Linked DNA regions of Homo sapiens. The protein of the gene in region 1 interacts with the protein of each later gene in a pairwise test. Each region holds a gene or a part of one and is shown in the gene's direction. Other genes may lie near its edges.

Region 1 (3,500 bases):
GATACTATCCTTTGATGCACTAAAGTTTTACATTGAGGTGGTCCAATTTATCTAATTTTTTTTAATTCCCTGTGCTTTTGGTGCCACATCCAAGAAATCATTGCCAAATTCAGTGCCAAGAAGCTTTTCCCATATGTTTTCTCCTAAGAGTTTTATAGTTTTAGGTCTTATATTCAGGTCACAGGTCCATTTTGAGTTCGTGTTTGTATATGGTACAACCATATACAAAAAAGGTTGTATGGTAAACCATATACAGAAAGAAGGGCCCAACTTCATTCTTTTGCATGTGGATACCCAGTTTTCTCCACACCGTTTGTTGAAAAGACTGTTCTTTCCCCCACTGAATGGTCTTGCACCCTTGTCAAAACTCATTTGACCATATATTTGAATACTTATTTGTAGGCTGTCTATTCTATTCCATTTGTTTAAATGTCTGTCTTTATGCCTATACCTCACTATTTTGCTAAGTGTAGCTTTATAGTCAGTTTGGAAGTCGTGAAGCATGAGAACTCCAACTTTGTTCTATTTCACGATTGTTTTGGCTGCTCAGGATCTGATATTTTGTTTTGCGTTTGTAAAGAGGGGCAGACTTTTTTCCCCAGCATGCTGAAAGTTCCTTCATTTTACTAGTGCCTGAGAACCAGGCACTATAAAGTGGGAGTTCTGGTATTAGAAGCTATGTCACTTGGTTTGCAGTTAAGTTGTGTCTTCCCACGTTGCTACACAGAGTAGAATTTGTTTTTCCTAAGTCATAGGGTATAAAGGAAAGATCTTCACAAATACACATGCAGTCACTTTTCATGGTGTCTGCCTCTCTGATTTCTAATTGGTTAAAATTTCCTTTTGGTAAACATAGTTGTTAAGAAAAATTTAACTGCTACTAATTTTACCTGAGAAAACATTGGTTCTCATGCAGTGATCCTGATATCTGTATGATAAGTTGACCTTAAGATGAATCTAACACAACTAATATTGTGGAGTGGGACCCACTTGATGCTCTATTGTTTGAATCATTGATACCAAAACAGTAGTATAGTTAATACCACAGTTCTGATAATACATATTACCTGGCCTTAACTCCCCAGTTTGATCATTAATAGGAGAAATCAGGGAATGCTATTTGAATATCTGCTGTGTGGAATGGAAAGAAAAGTTCTACTCAAACCCATTAATTCTTGCTTCCCTTTTAAGTAAAGATTTGTCACTCTGTTATAGGATTATTTGATGACTTGGTAAGTCAGCATCAACCATCTTTTTTTTTTTTTTTTTGAGACAGAGTCTTGCTCTGTCATCCAGGCTGGAGTACAATGGCATGATCTCGGCTCACTGCAACCTCTGTCTCCCGGGTTCAAGCCATTCTCATGCCTCAGACTCCTGAGTAGCTGGGATTATAGGCATCCACAACCACGCCCAGCTAATTTTTATATTTGTAGTAGAGACAAGTTTTCACCATGTTGGCCAGGCTGGTCTCGAACTCCTGACCTCAAATGATCCACCCGCCTTGGCCTCCCAAAGTACTGGGATTGCAGGCGTGAGCCACCACGCTTGGCCTGCATCAATCTTTATGTTAAAATTTTCCCACTTTCATTCATGATATAATGCTTTCTACCTTCATATAGACACTCTGCTGCACCCCTTCAATAGCAATACTCTTAATGTGCTTTTGGCAATGAAACTAATTTTCAAACTGTAGTTGAAATAGATTATAAATTACAGTTTTCATGATAGTGTAGACTTAATCCACCTTAAATAGGATTTTAACAAATTAAAAGGAAACTGCCTTTAAATTGCCATATTTTAAGCTAGAAGGAGGATACTAAACATTCCCAACACAAAGAAATGACAGATGTTTGAGACAATGAATATGCTGATTACCCTGATCTGATCACTATGCATTATATGTATTGAAACATCACTATATAGCCCATGAATATGTACAATTATTATTTCTCAATTTAAAAATGATTTTTTTGTTTTTCGAGACAGTCTTGCTCTGTCACCCAGGCTGGAGCACAGTGGCGCAATACTGGCTCACTGCAACCTCCGCCTCCCTGGTTCAAGCAGTTCTCTCTGCCTCAGCCTCTCAGGTAGCTGGGATTACAGATGCCCACTACCATGCCTGGCTAATTTTTGTATTTTTTAGTAGAGACGGGGTTTCGCCATGTTGGCCAGGCTGGTCTTGAACTCTTGACTTCAGGTGATCCGCTCACCTTGGCCTCCCAAAGTGCTGGGATAACAGGTGTAAGCCACCACGCCTGGCCTAAAAATAATTTTTTTTTTTGAGATGAAGTCTTGCTTTGTCACCCAGGCTGGAGTGCAGTGGCTCGATCTCCGGCTCACTGCAACCTCCACCTCCCAGGTTCAAGCAATTCTCCTGCTTCAGCCTCCTGAGTAGCTGGGATTACAGGTGTGGGCCACCACGGCCGGCTAATTTTTGTATTTTTAGTAGAGATGAGGTTACGTCATGTTGGTCAGGCTGGTCTCGAACTCCTGACATCATGATCCGCCTGCCTTGGGCTCCCAAAGTGCTGGGATTACAGGTGTGAGCCACCGTGCCTGGCCAAATAATTTTTTTAATTGCCGTATTTTAAAAACTTTTTAAAGAGGAAAAAAGGTGCTCAAGCAAAGTACTTAAGTCAATTTTACTCTAATCAAATATTTTCATTGACAAAAAAGAAATTTAAGGTGTGGGCTGGGCACAGTGGCTCAAGCCTGTAATCCCAGCACTTTAGGAGGCCAAGGTGGGTGGATAACCTGAGGTCAGGAGTTTGAGAGCAGCATGGCCAACATGGTGAAACCCCATCTCTACTAAAGATACAAAAAAATTAGCCGGGCGTGGTGGCACGGGCCTGTAATCCCAGCTACTCAGGAGGCAGAGGCAGGAGGATCGTTTGAACCCAGGAGGCAGAGGTTGCAGTGAGCTGAGATGGTGCCACTGCACTCCAGGCCTGTTACCACTGCACTCCAGCTTGGGCAACAGAACAAGACTCCATAAAAAACAACAACAACGACAAAAAAAAAAAACAAAGAAATTTAGGATGTGATATACAAAAATCTTGGTAGCTACATTGAGTAATATAAGAATCAATGCTTTCTTATTTAAAACTGAGTGGCCCTCAAAATTGTTCAATGATTACCATTTTGTTTCTCAGATATCCCGATGTCTGTGGGTATAATCGATCCTAGGGCTAATCCAACTCAACTAAATACAGTGGAGTTCCTGTGGGACCCTGCAAAGAGGACATCTGTGTTTATTCAGGTAAGGCGTTGCAGATAGGGTTCCAGTTTTGAAGAGTATCTCTCTTACTATCAGTTTATTTCTTAAAGGATAAAACATGTTAACTTTGAAATCTTTACAGGGTTCTAGCCTGACTGTCAAGCCCAGGCTCTTTAACCTGTGCCTGAGAGCATTGAGGAGTTTCTGAATTGCTCTTCTAATACCCCAGTTTATTTATTTGTGTCTCCCAAAATTGCTTGGTAATGGCTGCATAATATTTCAT
Region 2 (3,500 bases), on another chromosome or scaffold:
AAGTTGTTTATATAAATGAATCCAGCCTGAAGAGTTGAATTAGAATTGTCAGTAAAAAAAATCTTGCCTTAATTATTTCAGGACTGGAAAGGAAGGCCAACCCAGAGAGTACTACACATTGGATTCCATTTTATTTCTACTTAATAACGTGCACCTTTCTCATCCTGTTTATGTCCGACGTGCAGCTGTAAGTAGAATTCATTTTACTTATCTATCTATTTATCAGTTTTATTTTTATTTATTTAAGAGACAGGGTCTGGCCTTGTTGCCCGGGCTAGGGTGCAGTGGTGTGATCATAGCTCATTGCAGCCTCGAACTCCTAGGCTCAAGTGATCTTCCCACCTCTGCCTTCAAGTAGCCAGGACTGCAGGCCTGTGCCACCGTATCTGGCTAATTTTTTTTGTTGTTGTTAAAGATGAGGGGGTCTTGCTGTGTTGCCTAGGCTGGTCTTGAACTCCTACCCTCAGTGGATCCTCCTGCCTCGGCCTCCCGAAGTGCTGGGATTACTGGCATGAATCACTGTGCCTGGCCAATAATTCATTTTAAAACTTTTTTTTTTTTTTTGAGATAGGATCTGGCTCTGTTGCCTAAGCTGGAGTGCAGTGGTGTGATCTCGGCTTACTGTACCCTCTACTTCTCGGGCTCAAGCCAGCCTCCCACCTCAGTCTCCTGAGAAACTGGGACTATAGGCATGGCCCACCATGCCGGGCTAATTTTTGTATTAACACATTTTTTTTTTTTTTGGCTTCGTGGTAGTAGGTATCATTTGGAATGGATAGCTTCCCTCATGGGTTTCAAATCAAAAGAATGAAAGGTTTGTATGAGTGTCTCCAGGAGAGTCAAAATTAGGTGACTGTGTGACTTACACAGACTTTTTAATCTGTGATATTTTTTCATGTAAAGTGTGGGTAATGTTTATAACAAAGGAAGTTTTAAAGGGATTTATAGAGCCAGGCTTCTTAGTGCACGCTGGTAATCCCAGCTACTTGGGACTCTAAGGCGGTAGGGTTGCTTGAGCCTAGGAGATCAAGACCAGCCTGGGCAACATAGTGAGATGCCATCTCAAGAAAAAGAAAACCCGAAACGCTAAAAGTATTTATAGAGATGTTTAGAAAAACTTGTAAGCCTGTGGAAGGACCCTGTTACTTCAGAACTCTAGTTTAATCTCAAGAAAACTTTTTTTGGTTGTAAGGATTAAGATTAGCAGACATTTAAAAAAATTGTTTCTTAATCAGTTTTGTGCAGCTGTTTTAGTACTCTGGAGAAGTTCATTTGTTTTTAGTTTTGCTTGCTTTCTCAGTGTTTGAAAATTTATTACTCAGAGGAAATATTTGGAAACAACTTGAAAAGAACTAATTTCATAAACTATGATGATGAGATTCTTCATCTGTAGGGAAGTATCATTAAGACCTAAATTATAGCAGTATATTATAATTGATAAGTAAATAAGATTCAGAGTTATTTGGATAGGATAGCTGTATGACATGGAAAAGTACTATAATGCCCACATAAAATGGCCTAAAAGATATTTAATTTTTTTAAATGAGCTTTTCCCTCAGATTATTTTTGGTAGAGTTGAACATAAAATTTTTTGAAGATATAATTGAAATAATTAAATGTCTGCTTTTAATATTTGTTGCTTTTGCTTACAAGTATACACTTAAAATTAAGTATGAAATGTATTTATAAATAACTACTTTTTCCCATTTCTTATAGTTCTTAAAACAATCTTCTTAAACTTTTCTTATAGTTCTTAAAACAATTTTTTAAAATATCACTGTGTCTGTCATCACTGGAGCTGCTTTTTGAGTTACCTAACACCGTTGCTGGATCACATTAAGCTGTGTGAAACTTAACTTCTATAACTCTAACCTCCCTCCCAACTAGAAATAGTTAAGGTTTCTGGCTTATGTATCTTTCAAACAATAACTTGTTGTCTAAAGCAACTAAAAGCCAGGTGTGGTGGTGCATGCCTGTAGTCCCAGCACTTTGGGAGGCTGAGCTCAAGTGGGAGGATCACTTGAGCTCAGGAGTTCAAGACCAACCTGGGCAACATAGGGAAACTTTGTTAAAACAAAAAATAAAAAAAATTAGTCAGGCGTGGTAGTGTGCACCTATACTCCCAGCTGGCTACTCAAGGGGCTGAGGTGGGAGGATCACTTGGGCCCAGGAGGTTGAGGCTGCAGTAAGCCATGATCACACCAATGCATCTATCCTGGGTGATAGAGCAAAGACTCTGTCTCAGGGAAAAAAAAAAAATGTGTGTGTGTGTGTGTGTGTGTGTGTGATTATAGCAATTGAGAAAGTATCCCGTCACTTAGTGGGCTTTGTATTAAACCATAAGGCTTCTGCTTTCCTGAGTAAGAAATATATATTTATGTTACATATTTAAAAAAATAAAATTAGAGTGGGACTACTTGGGAAAATAAGGGGAAAAAAATAGCACCAGCTCCGTCTTTAAGGTTATTTTAACTCAGATCTTTAAAAACTAAATTAGGTAGTTCTTACAGTGTTTTGTTGGATATATTCATTTTAGTGTAACAAAGATTCAGATAGTTGGCTTAGATTTATAGATTCTGTTTTTGGGAAATGGTTGTGCATATAACTGATAGCTGTAATTGTTACTGTGGACCTTGGGACCCTTGGTTGCATAAGATTTAACTCATTTTTCATAAGTATTTGCCAGATTGAAAGAGTAGGATTCTAAAATTCCAAAATTCTATGAATTCGAGATTGTTGTCTCCTAATTACTTTGTGTTATTTGCTCTTTCCTGTGCGCAGACCACTCATTTTTTTTTTTTTTTTTTTTGAGTGCAGTGGCGTGATCTCGGCTCACTGCAACCTCCGCCTCCTGGGTTCAAGGGATTCTCCTGCCTCAGCCTCCCAAGTAGCTAGAATTACAGGCACACGCCACCATGCCTGGCTAATTTTTGTATTTTTAGTAGAGACGGGGGTTCACCACGTTAGCCAGGTTGGTCTTGATTTCCTGACCTCGCGATCCGCCCGCCTCGACCTCCCAAAGTGTTGGGATTACAGGCGTGAGCCACTGCGTCCGGCTGAGCAGACCACTCTGAAAACAGATTCCTGATCCTTAGTTCCTATTTTAGTGTGAGTAGATGTAATCTTTTTCAGTGGATTGTGATGTGTACATAACTCAGTAGTGACCAAATGATGATGTAAGTTATTAGACTTAGAAACAGTAACTTAAAATTAACTCAAATCTTTTAACTGTTTATGATATTCCATATAGACTGGTTTATTTTTATTTTTTATTTTTTTTTGAGACAGAGTCTTGCTCTGTCACCCAGGCTGGAGTGCAGTGGCAGGATCTTGGCTTGCCACAGCCTTACCCTCCCGGGCTCAAGTTGTCTTCCTCCTTCAGCCTCCTGAGTAGCTGGGAGTATAGCTGGGACTGCAGGCGCTTGCCACCATGCCTGGCTAACTTTTATATTTTTGTAGAGTTGGAGTTTTTCCATGTTGCTCAGGCTGGTCTCGAACTC
Region 3 (3,500 bases), on another chromosome or scaffold:
GGTTTTACTGAAGACTTGAAAGAGTTAAACCAGCAGTCAGAATAATTTGTACCATGAGAGAATATAACTAAAGCTAATAGAGCGCAGGTCTTCATAAAGCACCTAAATTTGCCCCTTAAAAATTCTCTCTTCCTGCAGTTTTCAAGGCACCTACTAGTAGAGATTTTGAGTGGGACCAAGTACTTAAGAAACAAAATTAAAAGCTTGTAGTATACTTTTAGCTTTGTGGATTCTGAATTTCCTGGTTCCCAAGGAAAAGACCTATTAACAACTAGATTAAACTTGTTTTGACAATGGAGAGAAGAAAGGTCTGAAGGAAGAAAAAAGGAGGTCCCTAGTTTATAAGAGCGGTTTTTAGCTTTTGCCAGTCCCGCTCATGGTAAGGCTAAAGCAGACTTTTCATGCAGTTCAGGCACCCGTGTAAACTTTTTCTGTTTGGGAAAGTACAGTGATCTAATAGGCATGTTGGGAGGTACATGCAACCCTACCCTTGGGCCTTTTCTAGTTGCAATATAACTTTATTGCCTAAAGCTTTTGCTCAATGGCATGTGCGTCTCTAATATGAATTAATCAGTTCTCTTATTTGTAATTTTTTTAACTCTGGTGTACTTTGCGTATTTTAAGACTGCTTGTTATCATTAGAGCAAGCAGTACTAGAAAGAAATCTTTACTTATATAATTTCTGTTTTAAATCAGGGGCCAGCAAACGTTCTTTAAAGGGCCAGATAGTAGACATTTTTTGGGTTTTAAGGCCATATGGGCTCTGTTGCACCTAGTCAACTCTGCCATTGTAGCAGGAAAGTTGCTATAGGCAGTACATAAATGAATGAGTATGATTGTGTTCCAATGAAACTTTATTTATAAAAACAGGCAGGGAGTGGGAATTGGCACATGGCCAATAGTTTAGCCCCCTTTCTCTAAATCAATGTCATTTAAAGTGTTTCCTTAGAATACTAGTCCTCCTTAATTGCCTACTGAAAATATAGTTGCCAAATAGTTTGGGAAATGCTACCTGCTGTGTGCCCCACTTGGAGAATTTTAAGGCATGCCACCATTAAAATCTCTTGGAAATTCTCTAATAAAGACACCATTTGACTTTGTTTAATTCAGTATTTTCCAATTATATTTGACCAAGAATCAGGTAATGCCTGTTTGCAACCCATGGACCTCAGGTCCCTCAGAATGCCCTTTGGGAAATACCGTTCTACATAATTCAAGAACAATCAATTACTACTACATCATACCAAGGAGTCCAGTAGCAAGAGTTAAGTTATCAGTTTAAGAGTGGTGTGCTGGATGAATCCTTACCCCTAAGCAGGGTCAGTGCCATCATCCAAAGGTGTCCTAAGACCACAGGTGGCATTTAAGAAACATGTTCTGCATTATTCGGGGCAAGCATTGGGAAGGGTGGGAGGGTATTCTCCTCTAGGAGCCAGGTGACCAGCCTGCCTGCAGCCCACTCCGCTGGAGGCTTTGGTCCAATGAGGCAACCACCAAGGGATATTAGTCCTGAAAGAGGCACGTGGCCATTTTTCTTCCTGTATTTGTGTGTAAAATAAACCCTTCCTCCTTGTTTTCTAGACCTTGTTCCCATCAGGATACCTAATCCCTCTCACGCAGTGCTCATCCCTGGGGGCAGAGTCCATTTTGTCTGGTAAAGAAAACTCAAGTGCTCTTTCCCCAAACCACAGGATTTACAGCTCCCCAATTGCAGGTGAGTGCACATAAAACACTAACCAGATGTGGGCCGGTCTCAAGTTCACTTAAGCCTTGTCAACTTCTTGGATAAATGCCTGTGCTTTTAAGATATCTTCCCCCTTTTCCTTCCAGGTGTTATTCCAGTGACATCATCTGAACTCACTGCTGTTAATTTTCCCTCTTTTCATGTAACACCGTTGAAGCTAATGGTCTCACCAACTTCCGTGGCAGCCGTACCTGTCGGGAACAGCCCGGCTCTCGCTTCAAGCCACCCTGTTCCCATCCAGAACCCAAGCTCAGCCATTGTAAACTTCACCCTGCAGCACCTGGGACTCATCTCACCCAATGTGCAGTTGTCTGCCAGCCCTGGGTCTGGAATCGTTCCTGTGTCTCCAAGAATAGAGTCTGTTAATGTCGCACCAGAAAATGCAGGCACTCAGCAAGGAAGGGCCACCAACTATGACTCACCAGTCCCAGGCCAGAGCCAGCCAAATGGACAATCAGTTGCTGTGACAGGGGCACAACAGGTGAGAGGCTTTCTACTTAATTTAATTTTTCCTGGAATTACTAAGCCCCAAGTATCTGTGTCATAAGAGATTGGCTTTTGCTTTTCCTCTTTGGAGAGGGAAAGGATGGGAAAGTCAGGAGATTGAAGGCCTATGTTTCTTCCAGAACCCAGGAAGAGTGTCCAAGGCATCCATATTGTTGGGTTATCATGAGATTTTTGTCTCTCCCCTAACAAAAATAATTGAGAATGTAAAACTCACCAAAGCTTCCCTCGCCAATTTCAAGATACGCCAGTTTCCCAATGTGCAATACATTCATCCAGCCCAATCTTCCAAGTCTGGTAAGACTATGTACCTGTGTGTGGTTGACTTCTTTTGTCCATTCTTCTCTTTCCAATCAGCCTGTTCCTGTGACACCCAAAGGGTCACAATTAGTGGCCGAAAGTTTCTTCCGTACCCCAGGTGGACCCACCAAGCCAACCAGCTCATCCTGCATGGATTTTGAGGGTGCTAATAAAACCTCCTTAGGAACTCTCTTTGTCCCACAGCGAAAACTGGAAGTCTCAACAGAGGATGTCCATTAATCAACAGATGTTGGCTTAGTTTAATTTTCTAAAGAGTTGTTTAATAGAGAAAATGTACACAGACTGATTTGGAGAACACATTCTCTGAAAATACTGTAAATACGTTGGGGATTTGTTCAATGTGAAATCAGATAGTTGTTTTCATACATATATATATATACACACACACACACACACACACACACACATATATTTGTATAAAGCTAAGTTTAGCTTTCAATCCTACAAAATAAAAGTAAAATGTTGAACTCTAAGATATATTAACTTCTAGGGGGAAAAATCCATTATTTTAGCTATGCCTATACTATTATGCAAAGTAACTGTATTAAAGTTTACTTCCCTCTAAGCAAATATGCTTGACATGCCTAACACAGCATTCCCTTAAACATTTTGCACAAAGAAAATGCTGTGTGATGTATAATGTTGTATTTTTAAATAGGGGTATAGCTATATTTTTTGTAATTTCTTTAATCTGTTGTTGCAGTGTATCTTTTTGTAAAGTTTGCAACAATCCTCAATCAAGTCTATGGAAAAATTATTTATAAAATGTATTTTTAATCATAAGTTGTTCAAATTAAAACTTTTCTAAAATATAGTTAGCATTTTCATTTCGCCGGTTAGGGCACTGTTGGGAGAAAATTAAAATTTACCTAATCACAGAGGCAAATTCTTAGTAAAGAGTATCCATGCTGGGTTCCATTAGATATGCAAA
Region 4 (3,500 bases), on another chromosome or scaffold:
TTCCTATAAAGGCACTTAAAAAGTCAGTGGAAATTCAGTTCTTCAAAAGCGGGTTCCTCAGCCACCCCAACCTCGCTACATCCCTCCTCCACTATGTCCATTTAATGTTTAATTATTTTCACAGTTCCCTTGGGTGTGGAAGGAAAAGTAAATCCATTGGAGTGGACATGGGTTGAACTTGGTGTTGACCAAACAGTAGATGTTGTGGTCTGTGTGATATATAGTCCTGGAGAATTTTATTGCCATGTGCTTAAAGAGGATGGTAAGTTGATTCTTGTCATTTGTTTCTTTTTACAAATACATTGGCATAGATAATAACTTCACATGAGTTTGTTACTAAGTGATAAAAGTACCTCTTTCCAAGAAGAGCCAAGTGGTATTTGTATTTCCAAGAAAGATTTGGTTATACTTAGTTAGCTTTTATTCTCTTTTAAGCCATTATTTCTATTTTCAACAATACCTCTTTATATTTAAACTAGTTTACATTTCATAGAGTATCTCCTAAATTCATTTACAGAAATTAATTCGGCCTGGTATAGTGGCTCACTCCTATAATCCTAACACTTTGGGAGGCTGAGGCAAGAGGATGACGAGGCCAAGAACTCAAGGGTGCGGTGAGGCTTGATCATACCAGTGTACTCCAGCCTGGGCAGCAGAGCTAGACCGTGTCTCTGGAAAACAAACAAACAAACAAAAAACAAATTTAACTTGTGTTGAAGTATTAGTGTAACGTATAGATACATGTGTATATAGGAGTACAACATAATGAATTATCACAAACTCCACACACTTGTATAACTAGCCTCTAAGTCAAGCAATAAAACATTACCAGTATCCCAGAAGTTTCCCTCCTATCCCCTCCCATCATTACCTCTTCTTTCTTTCTTTTTTTTTTTTTTCATTGAGATGGAGTCTCGCTCTGTTGCCCAGGCCTGAGTGCAGTGGCACAGTGTAGGCTCACTGCAACCTCTGCCTCCCAGGTTCAAGCGATTCTCCTGTCTCAGCCTCCTGAGTAGCTGGGACTATAGGCATGTGCCACCACGCCCAGTTAATTTTTTTTTTGTATTTTTAATAAAGGTGGGGTTTCACCGTGTTAGCCAGGATGGTCTCGATCTCCTGACCTTGTGAATCCACCTGCCTCGGCCTCCCAAAGTGCTGGGATTACAGGTGTGAGCCACTGTGCCCAAGCTGCCACCTCTCTCTTTCAAAAGTAAACATCTTGCTTTCTAATAGCATAGATAAGTTCTTCCTGGTTTTGAACTTTCTAGAAATGGAATTACACACTATGCGAGCTTCTGAGCCTTGCTGCTGCCCCCTGCACTGTGAGATTGTTACATGTCTGTACCTTGTTTTTCCTTGCTGCATAGTGTTCCATTGTATGTTACATGTATCTGTATCTTATTTTTCCTTGCTGCATAGTGTTCTGTGAATTGTATTGCAGTTTCTTTCTACCATTGGACACTTGGCCTGTTTTGCTTGGGCTGTAAATTAGTGTTGCTGTGAACATTACAGCATATCTGGTGCACATGTGCAGGCATTTTCATGGAGTCCAAACCTAGGAATGAAATTATTAGGTCATAAAGGGTATGTAAATTTGCAGCTTCCCCATCTACAAAGGCCAGTTTCTGAAGTGATTCAGAAACATCTAGTTGCTCCACATCCTCACAAACATTGTGTGTTTTCTTTTTCATTTGAGCCGTTCTGATGAGCATCATTGATCTTAAGTTTTCCAAATATTGGTTTTTCTTTGTCAAATAAGGACATTAAAGTAGATAACTAAGGCCCTGTCTGACCCCATAGTTGTGAGATTTGTCATTTCTTCATTCAGAATCATCTGGTTGGTAGGCCACCATTCCATATAGGATAAAATTTACAGTTTTGAAGTTCCTTTTTATTTTTAAAGGTGATTATACAAACATAATATAAAAATTCTAAAGATGAAGAAGGAAACATGAAAACATGTTTCAAAAGTGTATATAGTGCAAAGTAAGTTTCCTGGTTCCTCTTCTCAATTTTCCAAATATTTTTTCAGAGATACTCTATACATATGCTTGTATGAGTATATATAATCCTTTTCTATATCTATCAACAGTATAAAATGGTAAGTAATTTTTGCATTTTTTCTTCCACTACATTTTGGATATCAGTTCACATACTGTTTTCTCCAGTCTCTTTTTAAATAACAGTTTTTATTTTGGAATAATTTTAGGTATACAGAAAGTCACAAAGATGGTACATAGAGTTCCTGTATACACCTCACCCAGCTTCTCCTGTAGTTAGCATGTGATCGTGGCACATTTGTCGCAACAAAGAGACCAACAGTGGTATATTACCATTAAATGAACCCCAAACTTTATTTGGTTTTTGCTAGATTTTTCACTAGTGTCCTTTTTCTGTTCAGGAGCCACTCTGTGACACCACATTGCTGTTTAGTCTCTATTCTTTTTCATGGCTACATGGTATTCCACTGTGTGGGTTTATCCTAATTTAATTAACCTAAGTTAACATCTAGTTGCTCCACATCCTCACAAACATTGTGTTTTTTCTTTTTTGTTTGAGCCATTCTGATGAGCATCATTGATCTTAACTTTTCCAAATCTTGGTTTTTCTTTGTTAAATAAGGACATTAAACTAGATAACTAAGGTCCTATCTGACCCCATGGTTGTGAGATTTAACCTAAGTGTGGATACACACTACTAAGTGTGGATAAATACAGGATTAGTGGTTTCCAAGCTTTTATTACTAAAACAAATCCTTGTACTGTGATTTTTACTTTAGGAGTAGATCTCTGGGACAAGTTGCTAAAATTGTAATGAGAGTATTAGGTCAAAGGAATATGTGTATTTGTGCTTTTGAGAGCTAGTGTTCTTCAGAGGCCAGCCAAACAATCCCCCAGCAGCAGAGTGTATCATTGTCTATTGTGTGTCCTTAAACTTTATTTAGCCTAATCTGAAAGGTGAAACATCTGAAACATTAGAATTTATTTTCCATTTTAGTAAATGAGCCTTTGTCACATTCTTAAAAGGCATTTGCTTTTCTTTTACTACTACTAAGTGGTTTAGATCCCTTCTGCATTCAGAAGCTCTCCATGGTCTGCATTTTGCAGGGACAGCTCCAATGTCTCTCTCCAGTGGCCACTTCTCCACTTCTGCGCTTCGCTAGCCTGCTGCCCACTTTTGGTTGCCTAATTTCATAATTCTGTCCTTTGTCTGAGAGCCATGTCTTCCTTCTGGAAATACCCTCTCCTTCAAATGTGATGTACTTTGTATTTCTGTATGAAACCTCCAGCACGCAGAGCTCATGAGCTCTGACTTCTTATACATTACCTGTGCCATCCATTTAGTGATTATAGTCACTTTCAGGACAGCTTTTATGTAGCTTCTGTATGGGCTTGTATGCTGTTTTCTTATCTCCCTGCAAAGTTCATGCTTTAGTGTACTGATAATCATGCTGTAATTGTTTCTTTTTGCCCAGTAAATCGTTGGTGTTGGGTTTATTG

What was found.
Region 2: the proteins of TFCP2 (region 1) and CDC73 interact in binary tests that used the Homo sapiens proteins (3 or more experiments, as listed by UniProt).
Region 3: the proteins of TFCP2 (region 1) and E2F8 interact in binary tests that used the Homo sapiens proteins (3 or more experiments, as listed by UniProt).
Region 4: the proteins of TFCP2 (region 1) and TDRD1 interact in binary tests that used the Homo sapiens proteins (3 or more experiments, as listed by UniProt).

What each region holds. Positions count from the first base shown.
Region 1 is NC_000012.12:51,110,636-51,114,135, reverse strand, and holds part of TFCP2 (alpha-globin transcription factor CP2), read left to right. Parts: intron 1-3,152; coding exon 3,153-3,259; intron 3,260-3,500.
Region 2 is NC_000001.11:193,125,031-193,128,530, forward strand, and holds part of CDC73 (parafibromin), read left to right. Parts: intron 1-81; coding exon 82-187; intron 188-3,500.
Region 3 is NC_000011.10:19,223,946-19,227,445, reverse strand, and holds the end of E2F8 (transcription factor E2F8), read left to right. Parts: intron 1-1,581; coding exon 1,582-1,714; intron 1,715-1,830; coding exon 1,831-2,225; intron 2,226-2,605; coding exon 2,606-2,788; 3' UTR 2,789-3,383; downstream 3,384-3,500. UniProt on the Homo sapiens protein: Atypical E2F transcription factor that participates in various processes such as angiogenesis and polyploidization of specialized cells.
Region 4 is NC_000010.11:114,213,853-114,217,352, forward strand, and holds part of TDRD1 (tudor domain-containing protein 1), read left to right. Parts: intron 1-124; coding exon 125-262; intron 263-3,500. UniProt on the Homo sapiens protein: Plays a central role during spermatogenesis by participating in the repression transposable elements and preventing their mobilization, which is essential for the germline integrity.